3 linked regions of the Homo sapiens genome follow. The protein of the gene in region 3 interacts with the protein of the main gene of each other region in a pairwise test. Each region holds a gene or a part of one and is shown on either strand. Other genes may lie near its edges. The genes, in order: KRT222, AKAP9 and ICAM5.

Region 1 (3,751 bases), on a different chromosome or scaffold from region 3:
GAAGCCTGATAGCTTCCACTTCTATGCTTTTGGGAGCCTTGGGCCAATATGCAAGAAGTCTGGATACCCTGCTGGAGAGATCCTGTAGAAAGGCCAGATGGAGAGAGACCCTGAGGCTACGTGAAGTGAGAGAGAAAGTCCCAGCAGAGCCAGCCTTTCGGCAATGCCCTGCCAAAGTGCCAGACACATAAGTGAGCCCAGTCATGCCCCAAGACGATTGAGGTCCCAGATGAGTTTTGGGGTGTTATACAACAATCTGTAACTAAAATAGCTTATTTAGAAATTTAAAAAAATAACTAATCAGGCTGTCTTGAATTTATTTCAGCTGACTTTCTGAGTTATTTGGAAGAAAATCCTCTAAAGTAGTTTCAAATTAAAAGACACTTTAAACAAAACTCACCGTAGTCTTGCTTTTTCATTTGAATTTACTCATTTTGGCCCTGTGACTTGTAAACTAAACTCATATTTCTACTACTGCAAAGTTAAGTGTTTTGTTTATGATTTTTAGAAGTTGTCATCTATTGATTTTTTTCTTCTGTTTGTAAAGGTGAATGAACTATCCCAATGCTTACCTGTACCAGTGACTTTGCTTAATCTAAGATGTTGATCATTCTTTATGAAGGCTGAAAATGTTATCTAGAGGTGAAATTTACAATGGAACTAAAAATGAGTGGCTAATGGAATAAAGGCCTGACATTTTTCTACCAATTTTTTTTTTTAAAATTTTGGGTGATATTCTTAAGTAAACTTTTTGCTGTATTTCAGGGTTTGGAAGATAACTTGAACCCATATATGATAGGTAAACTAAAAAATCCCCTAAATTTCTTAATCTTTGTTTCTAAAATATTTGTTTGTAAATTTGTTTAAAGACTTGAGACCTTAATTACTTGCTGAAGGTGATTGTTACTTTAAAACTAAGTCTATGAAATTAGGATTTAGTCCTTATCTAAGTAGGCTCTCTTTCTCTTTTTTAAATACTTAAATATTACAAGCTTTGTAATGGAAAGAAATGTTTCTCATCTTATAGTACAGAAGCAAAAATCTTAGTGGAGAATCGTTACCAATTTGGGGAATTTCAATGGTCATAATTTATATCATTGTTTCTGAATGCCATGTTCACACACTCAGATGATTTCTATTTATAACAATCTGGTATAAAATGGAACTCGTTAAAAAGATGATAGAAACCTTTTAGAAATATCTCTAGAAAGTGTACATGCTAATAAATCTTACTTAAAGATTTTTCATTTTAAAGATGTTATTTAAATTATCTCTGTAAATAACTCCAATAATATCTTTGAAGGGTATTTGGAATGGTTCCTTCCTGAAGATTGTAAGAGGTTAGAGTGCACCATTTTATGGTATGTTGACCCCATGTTAATGATAGGAACCTCACAATTTATATAAAAATCAAATGCATCAATCAACACTTACTTAATGGCAATTTAACAATATAATCACAGTATTTCCCCCTGTAGTCCCAGTCACACTGCAGTAGAAGCTAAATTCCTTCCCCAATAGATGCTGCATCGAAAAGGAAATACTGTACCTCAGAGAGGCCGGGACAGGAATTGGGTAGACATGGACTGTCTCCTTATTCTGGAAGGTGCCTGTCTGTATGAAATCATTACCTGGATCCTTGTTGAGAGCACCGTCTCTATCTGATTTCTGGTGAGGATCTTTTCATAGTTTGCCCTGATCTCATTGAGTAGCTGGGACAGTTCCATTCTTTTCCCATCCTCCACCTTGGCTAACTGAACCTTATCGATAGGATGAGTCGCTGCGGCAGTCTGCTCGGTCTGCGCGGAAGGCAGGGAGCCTCGCAGAGTTTTAAAGATGCAGAGCTCCTTTTTCGGAGGCCACGGAAATTCTCATCTTTCTAACTAATTATGCAAATACAGGGTAAACTCTTTGCTCCTATTGTTATTGGTATAGTAGAAATGTCAGATTCTTCATGAAGGAAAGGAAAATTTCAAAAACCTGTACTGGTTCCCTGTAAAAATTGAGCACTTTGAGGGGAGGGGGAGTTCATTTTTGTGAAAAGGAAATGGGGCATAACATAAGAAAATTGCCGGGCATGGTGGCTCATGCCTGTAATCCCAGCACTTTAGGAGGTTGAGGTGGGTGGATCACCTGAGGTCGGGAGTTCGAGATCAGCCTGGCCAACATGATGAAACCCTGTCTTTACTAAAAATACAAAAATTAGCTGGGCGTGGTGGTGGGTGCCTGTAATCCCAGCTACTCGGGAGGCTGAGGCAGGAGAATTGCTTGAACCCAGGAGGTGGAGGTTGCAGTGAGCCGAGATTGAGCCACTGCACTCCAGCCTGGGTGACAGAGTGAGACTCCATCTCCAAAAAAAAAAAAAAAAAAAAAAAAGAAAATTATATTTAGTTTTCTCAAAATGTTGCAGATAAGTGCTGGTAGACTATGAGAGTTGTGAGTTAACATTTCCAAAGTTTTAACAAGGATGAAGAAATAGACCTTTTGGTGTATTCACCAAAAGAACCCTTGAGTCCTTTGGAGGGTGTAGTCAGTGTACCATTCCATCCAATCGTTGCAATCACTTGAGCCCTTCGGAGGGTGTATTTGGCGTATCATTCCATCCAATCCTTGCAATCCCTGACATTTTCTAACCTGTAAAGATGAAAAGACTGAGGCCAGAGAGGTTGAGGCATCTTGCCCAAGGTTGCTCAGTGATGTATGACATCACTGGGACTGGCTCTTTGACAACTTGCTTGTGTTCCATGTATTACCCCTGCATATCTGCCTCTGCGTTCTCTCTCTCCCCTTCTAAATTCCTGGTTTAATCTTGCCAGCTGGTTGCTAGATGTGACAGAAATATGTCGTGAGAGTGGATCTATCATTATTGTTATTTGTGGAGTGGCTTTGGCTGAATTGTATCTGGAGCACAGTTCAGGAGATAATCAGACCTGGGTTCTAGCCCTTACAGGGCCTTTGCATGCATGTCCTGCTCTTTTAATTTCTGAATTAACTCACATCTGGCCAGGCCAGTCTATGCTGGGCATTCTCACAGCCCTCTCCAAACAAAGCTGTCCTACCCACAGCTCCTGGTGAGAGGAGAGGTTCCAGGTTATTTCTGACCCACCCCTCCCTACCTCCTGCACCTTCCCCATCAGTCACAACTTGATTATCTATAGATTGGTCAGAGACCTTTGGAGTAGGCTGAGACAGAAAGCTCTGACTAAAGAGAGTCATTAATGATTATCTAGGCCAAACTGATTCTCTTTCTTGGTAACTGGGACTGAGAAATATGAAGAGAATTAGGCTTGGGAGTGGAGGAGAGAGAAGAAAGCAATGAATTAAATTCCTAAATTAAATTCAGGGAGCAATGAATTAAATGCTTCCTGCTACTTTAGGTAGCTCCTGCTAATATCCGCCTGAAACACAGAGAGCTGAACTAGATTCCCTGGAGGGTCAGTCCTGGCAATCTGCATTTTAAATAGGTCTGCCAGCATTTCTTATGCACCCTAAATAAAGCAGCACTGTCCAGTGGAAATATAACACAAACCACAAATGCAAACCACAGATGTCCTTCCAAACTTTCTAGTAGCCATATCAAAAGATTGAAACAAAAAGAAGTGAAATTAATTTTACGACTATATTTTATTTAACTTGATATATCCAAAATGCAGCAACCCATATAAAATGTTAATGAGATCTTTTACATTATTCTTGATACTGTCTTTGAAATCCAAGTGTATTTTATACTTACATCGCATCTCAGCTTGGA
Region 2 (3,751 bases), on a different chromosome or scaffold from region 3:
TTCCATATTGTAGTCTCCTGGTTTCATTTACTCTTCCTCACCTTTCATTTCCTTCATCACCTTGTATAGAGTAAACCAGGGTAAGTGCTGGTAGATGCATTGATGAAAAAATATATAATCCTGCCTAAATACCTAAAGGCAGCTCACTTTCTAGTGGGGAAGACTAATATGCACAGAACTTAGAATATAATAAGTAAATGGGAGGTCACAGGAGTTAGCTAGTAATTTTGATTAGAGGGATCTAGAGAGGCTTCATGAGAGCGGTGTAGAAGTTGTTATTGACATACTTCACTCTGCCCCACTTTTTCTTATCCAAGATTATGTTTATCATATTTTGACCCTCCTAAGATGGAGCCTTGGAACTGATTCAAAGTAAATCAAAACTGGTGCTCCAAAAGCTCCTTGGGCCAAGATGGGGAAGAAGGTCGTAACTTGCTGCACCTGGGTCATGAAGCTAACACTCCCATTCCTTTTGAAACCAACGTTTTTTTGTCCCTGATCAAAGGGACAAGAGCTTCACCCACCTTGCAGCATTCCCAGCACATTCTTATTGCCAATTTAAGGGTCTTTTTGTTCTCTTCTTATCTCATCTGCCCTTTATTCTCTGTTCTTTTCTCTTTTCATTACTTCTCACCCTTTCTTTGCCTATCTGCTTTTCCCATCTACTTTTGCCTTCCATCTCCTTATACCCCATTTATCCCTCAAGCTGGAACCTGATGCTGGCAATATAAGAGACCTCTAATGCCTCTTGGGAAGGGGATGAGGGGATTTTGAGTCCCTATTCTTCCGTTCCAGTTGATTTTGTCACAACAGGCATTGACATAGTTTAACTGGGCAATTGTGAAATTTGACATTTGTTCTATGTTCATATTTAAACGTGTGATGTGATTTTTGTAGGAAATGTATATACTGTTTATAGATGGGCTGTGAAATTTTATCTTGGAATCTTTTTTAGAATGAAATTTTTGGTTCGACGGTGGCATCGAGTCACAGGTTCTGTTTCCATCAATATTAACAGAGATGGCTTTGGACTGAATCAAGGTGAAGTCAAAATAGCATATTTTCTTATGTTTATGACTCTCTAAATCAGAGGTCCCCCACCCCCAGACTATGGACCATACTTGTCTGTGGCCTGTTAGGAACCAGGCCGCACAGCAGCAGGTGAGCAGCGGGCATTACTGCCCGAGCTCCACCTCCTGTCAGATCAGCCGTGGCATTAGATTCTCATAGGAGCACAAATCCTATTGTGAACTGCACATGTGAGGAATCTAGGTTGTGTGCTCCTTATGAGAATCTAACTAATGCCTGATTATCTGGGGTGGAACAGTTTCATCCAGAAACCATTCTGGCCCCTTTGGGTCCATGGAAAAATTGTCTTCCATGAAATGTGTCCCTGGTGCCAAAAAGGTTGGGGACTGCTGCTCTGAATTACTGCATGTGTAATACTTACCAAGTAATGAATTCTGGAAGCAATGTTTTCCAAAGACAAAGCCCTTATAACTGCCAAAACTAGGTAACTTCACTGTTTTAAAGAGGGTAATAATAACTGATTTTCATGGAGAACTTAGTCTGCACCTGGCCATGCTCTTTTCATGTATTCTCCCAATCCTATGATATAAGTACAGTTTTACTACTCTCACTTTTAGATGAAAAATCGAGGCATGGAAAACACAAGTCATTTGCCCCAGAATGGCCAGTAGGGAAGTGATGGAACCAGGACCAAACACTGGCAGTCTGGGTCCAGAGCCCACACTCTTCATAACTGCATTTAAGGCACGGTTCAAGACAGGATTGCTGTTAGTCATATGGAAGAATTAGGAAGTTTTCATAATTTAACAATATTCAAACAAGTTTCTGAGTTTACCAACAGGTTGTATAATAATGGTAACAGCTAAAATTCCTTCTGTCTACACCTAGAAGTGGAAACAAACTAGGGCTTGAACATTTCTGGCAATAAAGATGAGGTCCGAATCTGGGGAGCACACAGAGGACACAGCATCCCTGTGCTGTGTATTCATAGTAAACCACCTTTACATACTCTACCAGGAGCTGAGCATCCTACAGAGGGGAAATAGATTTGGTACCCTACACAAAGTATTTTGAAATATCATTACACTGAAACAGCTGAAATTTGTACCATAATAAGTTGTGTTTTATTAAAAGTTAGCAAATCTTGGTTTCAAGTCAGTAGATTGGAATGGTTACATTGGTCTAATATTTTTTATCCACATCATTTCCCACAAGCCACACCCACTCAGACACCCCTCACCTCTCATCTACTTAGAGCTAAGGTCTTTAAAGAAGAAAATATGCCAATTAAATAATTTTCTTTGAGACATAATTCCAGATATCAGAAATACTCATATTCAAAAGTAAACAAAATAACATTTGAAAGCCGAATTTTTGTTTGTACTGTTTTCTCCTTTATCAAGAATAATAGAAAATGACTATAAATAGGAGATTGTATAATATAGTATAATAGTCTTTTGAGCAGTTACCTATTTTGTAGAAATTTTTTAAGGTCTTGGGATTTTATTTTTCTTTACAAGGAATATTTTGGGTTACTTTAGGTGCAGAAAAGACTGACTCATTTTATCATTCTTCTGGTGGGCTGGAGTTATATGGAGAACCAAGACATACTACGTATCGCTCAAGATCAGATCTGGACTATATTAGGTCCCCTTTACCATTTCAGAATAGGTAAGAATATGAGAAAACCTGCCTGGAATTGTTAAATGTATTAATATTTAACAGAGATAAATGGACATTTTTAGGGCTTTGACTTCTTTGCATTGAGATAGACATCTTTGTTATATATAATTTACATAATATGACCAAGTGCGGTGGCTCACACCTATAATCCCAGCACTTTGGGAGGCTGAGGCGGGCAGATCATGAGGTCAGGAGTTCAAGACCAGCTAGTTGGAGACTAGCCTGGCCAACATGGTGAAACCCTGTCTCTACTAAAAATACAAAAAATTAGCCAGGCGTGGTGGCAGGCGCCTGTGGTCCCAGCTACTTGGGAGGCTGAGGCAGGAGAATGGTGTGAACCCGGGAGGCGGAGCTGGCAGTGAGCTGAGATTGTGCCACTGCACTCTGGCCTGGGCAACGGAGCGAGACTCTGTCTCAAAAAAAAATACAAAAAAATTAGCCAGGCATGGTGGTGGGTGCCTGTAATCCCAGCTACTCAGGAGGCTGAGGCAGGAGAATCGCTTGAACTCAGGAGGTGGAGGTTGCAGTGAGCCGAGGTCACGCCACTGCACTCTAGCCTGGGCAACAAAGCAAGATTTGGTCTCCAAAAAAAAAAAAAAAGAAAAAAAATATACATAACCTAAGGCTTAATGTAAAAATGTAAAAACCAGTGTTTAAATTTGTAACTGATTTCCAAGGGTATAGCAAACAAGCTGACCAAGTGTTATTTAGTGTATGCTATGGTTAGATATTGGGAAAAGTATTGACTAAAATTGATACTCTGATCATTATGAAAAGCTTAACAGTCTTCATGACAAGATACATTTATACATACCCAATTTATTGAGACCTCTGCCACAAGCATTGTATTGGACATTCTTATGTTGACTTAGTAGCATCTTTGAATTCATTGGAGAGTTGTCTCTTTCTCATCCCAAGCTCCAAAGCTGAAGCTTGGAGGAGATACATTATGTGTGTACAAGTGACCCACCTTTTTGGGGAAGGGAGTGGAGGCAGGTTGGTAACTTATATGCATATTTCTGGATAACTTGATTCATGT
Region 3 (3,751 bases):
TGATCAAGAACAGGAGCGCAGAGCTTCGTGTCCTATGTGAGTTGGTGATAACCCCTCGCCCCCCACCTTCTGGTGACTTCCAAGGACCCGCCTGCTCCCTCACCGTGTCGTGGAGGCGGAGCCATTTCTTACGTCTAAGCCTCTGTAACCCCACGCCCTGCCCGCAGACGCTCCCCGGCTAGACGATTCGGACTGCCCCAGGAGTTGGACGTGGCCCGAGGGCCCAGAGCAGACGCTGCGCTGCGAGGCCCGCGGGAACCCAGAACCCTCAGTGCACTGTGCGCGCTCCGACGGCGGGGCCGTGCTGGCTCTGGGCCTGCTGGGTCCAGTCACTCGGGCGCTCTCAGGCACTTACCGCTGCAAGGCGGCCAATGATCAAGGCGAGGCGGTCAAGGACGTAACGCTAACGGTGGAGTGTGAGTGGGGGTGCGCAGGGTGCATTTCTATCTGGTTCAAGGTCTGGAGGGTGGCCAGCCTCCAGGGAAGAGTAGGAGTAGGGTATGAGGTGTCCCTTTGGGTGAGGTTTTGGGAAAGGGAAGAGGCTGGTTAGTGGGGTTGGAGAAAGATCTTGGAGGATGGAAGGGACCGGGTGGGCGTGCCCCTAGCCTAGGGCGTGGTATTTGGGCGGAGTCGTGGAAAGGCGGGCAGTCCAGAGTGTTTAAGTTTTTAGACGAAAAAGGCGCCACTGGTGGCTCAGGAAGCTCCCAGACAGAGTGCATGCCTCGACTAGCGTGACACCTCCTTGGATCGGCGTCCAAGGGTTATGCAGGGACAACACTTCGTGGAAGCCTTGCCGCGCCAAGGAGGGTCTAGGGACGTCAGATTTGCCCCCAAACCCCAAAGCCAACAATACACTCCCTCCTCCAGACGCACCAGCGCTGGACAGCGTGGGCTGCCCAGAACGCATTACTTGGCTGGAGGGAACAGAAGCCTCGCTGAGCTGTGTGGCGCACGGGGTACCGCCGCCTGATGTGATCTGCGTGCGCTCTGGAGAACTCGGGGCCGTCATCGAGGGGCTGTTGCGTGTGGCCCGGGAGCATGCGGGCACTTACCGCTGCGAAGCCACCAACCCTCGGGGCTCTGCGGCCAAAAATGTGGCCGTCACGGTGGAATGTGAGTAGGGGCACCGCGGAGTTAGGCAGGATCTGTGGGACAACCCCGGCTGGACTTCCTGGCCCCCGTGTGAGCCCCTGCAATCCTGTTTCCCAGATGGCCCCAGGTTTGAGGAGCCGAGCTGCCCCAGCAATTGGACATGGGTGGAAGGATCTGGGCGCCTGTTTTCCTGTGAGGTCGATGGGAAGCCACAGCCAAGCGTGAAGTGCGTGGGCTCCGGGGGCGCCACTGAGGGGGTGCTGCTGCCGCTGGCACCCCCAGACCCTAGTCCCAGAGCTCCCAGAATCCCTAGAGTCCTGGCACCCGGTATCTACGTCTGCAACGCCACCAACCGCCACGGCTCCGTGGCCAAAACAGTCGTCGTGAGCGCGGAGTGTGAGCGAGGCCCAGGCGGGTAGGGAGCAGGGGTGCCCCACGGTCCAGGCACTCCCTGACATCCCCCATGGCTGCTTTGCAGCGCCACCGGAGATGGATGAATCTACCTGCCCAAGTCACCAGACGTGGCTGGAAGGGGCTGAGGCTTCCGCGCTGGCCTGCGCCGCCCGGGGTCGCCCTTCCCCAGGAGTGCGCTGCTCTCGGGAAGGCATCCCATGGCCTGAGCAGCAGCGCGTGTCCCGAGAGGACGCGGGCACTTACCACTGTGTGGCCACCAATGCGCATGGCACGGACTCCCGGACCGTCACTGTGGGCGTGGAATGTGAGTGGGGGCAGCACCGGATGGAGGGGACACGGTCCTCGGAAGAATGACTCGCAGCGGTGGGAGCATTCAAGGGCACCTCTCCCAATCCCATTCTCGGGGACAGGGAATTCCAGCCTAAACCAGGGGGTAATGAAAATTCTAGCCAGGCGCAGTGGCTCAGGTCTGTAATCCCAACACTTTGGAAGGTTGAGGCGGATGAATCACTTGAGGCCAGGAGTTCGAGACCAGCCCGGCCAACATGGCGAAAACCCGTCTCTACAAAAATTAGCCGGTCGTGGTGGTGGGCGCCTGTGGTCCCAGCTACTTGGGAGGCTGAGGCAGGAGAATCGCTTGAGCCTGGGAGGCAGAGGTTGCAGGGAGCCGAGATCCCGCCACTGCACTCCAGCCTGGGCAACAGAGTGAGACTCTTTCTTAGAAAAACAGAAAAAGAAAATTATAGGGAATAGGAGCACGGCCCTCCTCAAATCCTGGATTAGAACACTGACCTGGGCTTCACCTCCTTCCATTCGGTGAAGAAGGGCGAGGAATTTTAGCCGCAACAGCAGCCTGATTGTCGGGGAAGGAGGCTCTGATAGGAGGCAGGATCCTCTTCTGCCCATCAGAGGCGCGGTGGTCTCCCATCGATCGTTGTGGGCCGGAGCAGGGCATTTGATCAGTGGCTGGGCCGGCGCTAAGCCCCACTTCACCTTCTGTGCCCTTCAGACCGGCCAGTGGTGGCCGAACTTGCTGCCTCGCCCCCTGGAGGCGTGCGCCCAGGAGGAAACTTCACGTTGACCTGCCGCGCGGAGGCCTGGCCTCCAGCCCAGATCAGCTGGCGCGCGCCCCCGGGGGCCCTCAACATCGGCCTGTCGAGCAACAACAGCACACTGAGCGTGGCAGGCGCCATGGGAAGCCACGGCGGCGAGTACGAGTGCGCAGCCACCAACGCGCACGGGCGCCACGCGCGGCGCATCACGGTGCGCGTGGCCGGTAAGTGGCAGCTGGGGAGAGGCGGGGCGAGGTATCTGAGAGGGGGCGTGACCTGGGTCTTGGGGCGGCCGGCCCCGCCTGCCTCCCTCTCGGTCCCGGTAGACTAGACGGAAGTGGGACAGAGTAGAAGTCAAAGGTGCCTTAGCGGGTGGGGCTGTTGATCGCACTTTGAGGGGTGGGAGATGGAGGTGGCAGGGGGACTGAATTCAAGGGGAGGGACCCTCCGGGGCTGTCACTGCTGCAGGAAAGGACTTTAAAACTTGGGCTGGATTCTGCGTGGTGGAAACTTGACCCAATTCACAATCCACTGTGGGGAAGATTGGGGAGGGACCAAAGTCATTGGATGTTGGAGGGAGAGAGGGGTCAAGATCGCCTTCTCTCACTTCCTGAAGCTCCTGGGGCTGGGTTCTCTCTGGGGTCGGGGGAACCTGACCTGGTCCTGCCGGTCCTCATTTTTTGGGGGATGGGGAGAGTTGACTTGTCGCCAGGGGGCTAAGTGTGGTCACGGGTTTATATCCCCATGGGCTGAAGTGCGATATAAATCGGGACTCGGGTCGCCCTGGCACTGGGAGTGGCCTTATTGCATGGGTTGTCTCCCTTCTCCCAAGGCCAGACAGTGAGCTCCCCGGGGCATGAGGACTGACTTCGTGCCTGTGGGAGTGCGGGGGGCGGTGGGAGAAGCCCCCCGGAGCTTGGCCACCCTCCGCGAGGGTCTCCACCCCGCAGGTCCGTGGCTATGGGTCGCCGTGGGCGGCGCGGCGGGGGGCGCGGCGCTGCTGGCCGCGGGGGCCGGCCTGGCCTTCTACGTGCAGTCCACCGCCTGCAAGAAGGGCGAGTACAACGTGCAGGAGGCCGAGAGCTCAGGCGAGGCCGTGTGTCTGAACGGAGCGGGCGGCGGCGCTGGCGGGGCGGCAGGCGCGGAGGGCGGACCCGAGGCGGCGGGGGGCGCGGCCGAGTCGCCGGCGGAGG

The links.
Region 1: the proteins of ICAM5 (region 3) and KRT222 interact in binary tests that used the Homo sapiens proteins (3 or more experiments, as listed by UniProt).
Region 2: the proteins of ICAM5 (region 3) and AKAP9 interact in binary tests that used the Homo sapiens proteins (3 or more experiments, as listed by UniProt).

What each region holds. Positions count from the first base shown.
Region 1 is NC_000017.11:40,663,373-40,667,123, forward strand, and holds the start of KRT222 (keratin-like protein KRT222), read right to left. Parts: upstream 1,806-3,751; 5' UTR 1,728-1,805; coding exon 1,632-1,727; intron 1-1,631.
Region 2 is NC_000007.14:92,104,723-92,108,473, forward strand, and holds part of AKAP9 (A-kinase anchor protein 9), read left to right. Parts: intron 1-955; coding exon 956-1,041; intron 1,042-2,570; coding exon 2,571-2,700; intron 2,701-3,751. UniProt on the Homo sapiens protein: Scaffolding protein that assembles several protein kinases and phosphatases on the centrosome and Golgi apparatus. Required to maintain the integrity of the Golgi apparatus. Required for microtubule nucleation at the cis-side of the Golgi apparatus.
Region 3 is NC_000019.10:10,292,831-10,296,581, forward strand, and holds part of ICAM5 (intercellular adhesion molecule 5 precursor), read left to right. Parts: coding exon 1-36; intron 37-167; coding exon 168-416; intron 417-867; coding exon 868-1,113; intron 1,114-1,209; coding exon 1,210-1,488; intron 1,489-1,570; coding exon 1,571-1,810; intron 1,811-2,515; coding exon 2,516-2,782; intron 2,783-3,508; coding exon 3,509-3,751. UniProt on the Homo sapiens protein: ICAM proteins are ligands for the leukocyte adhesion protein LFA-1 (integrin alpha-L/beta-2).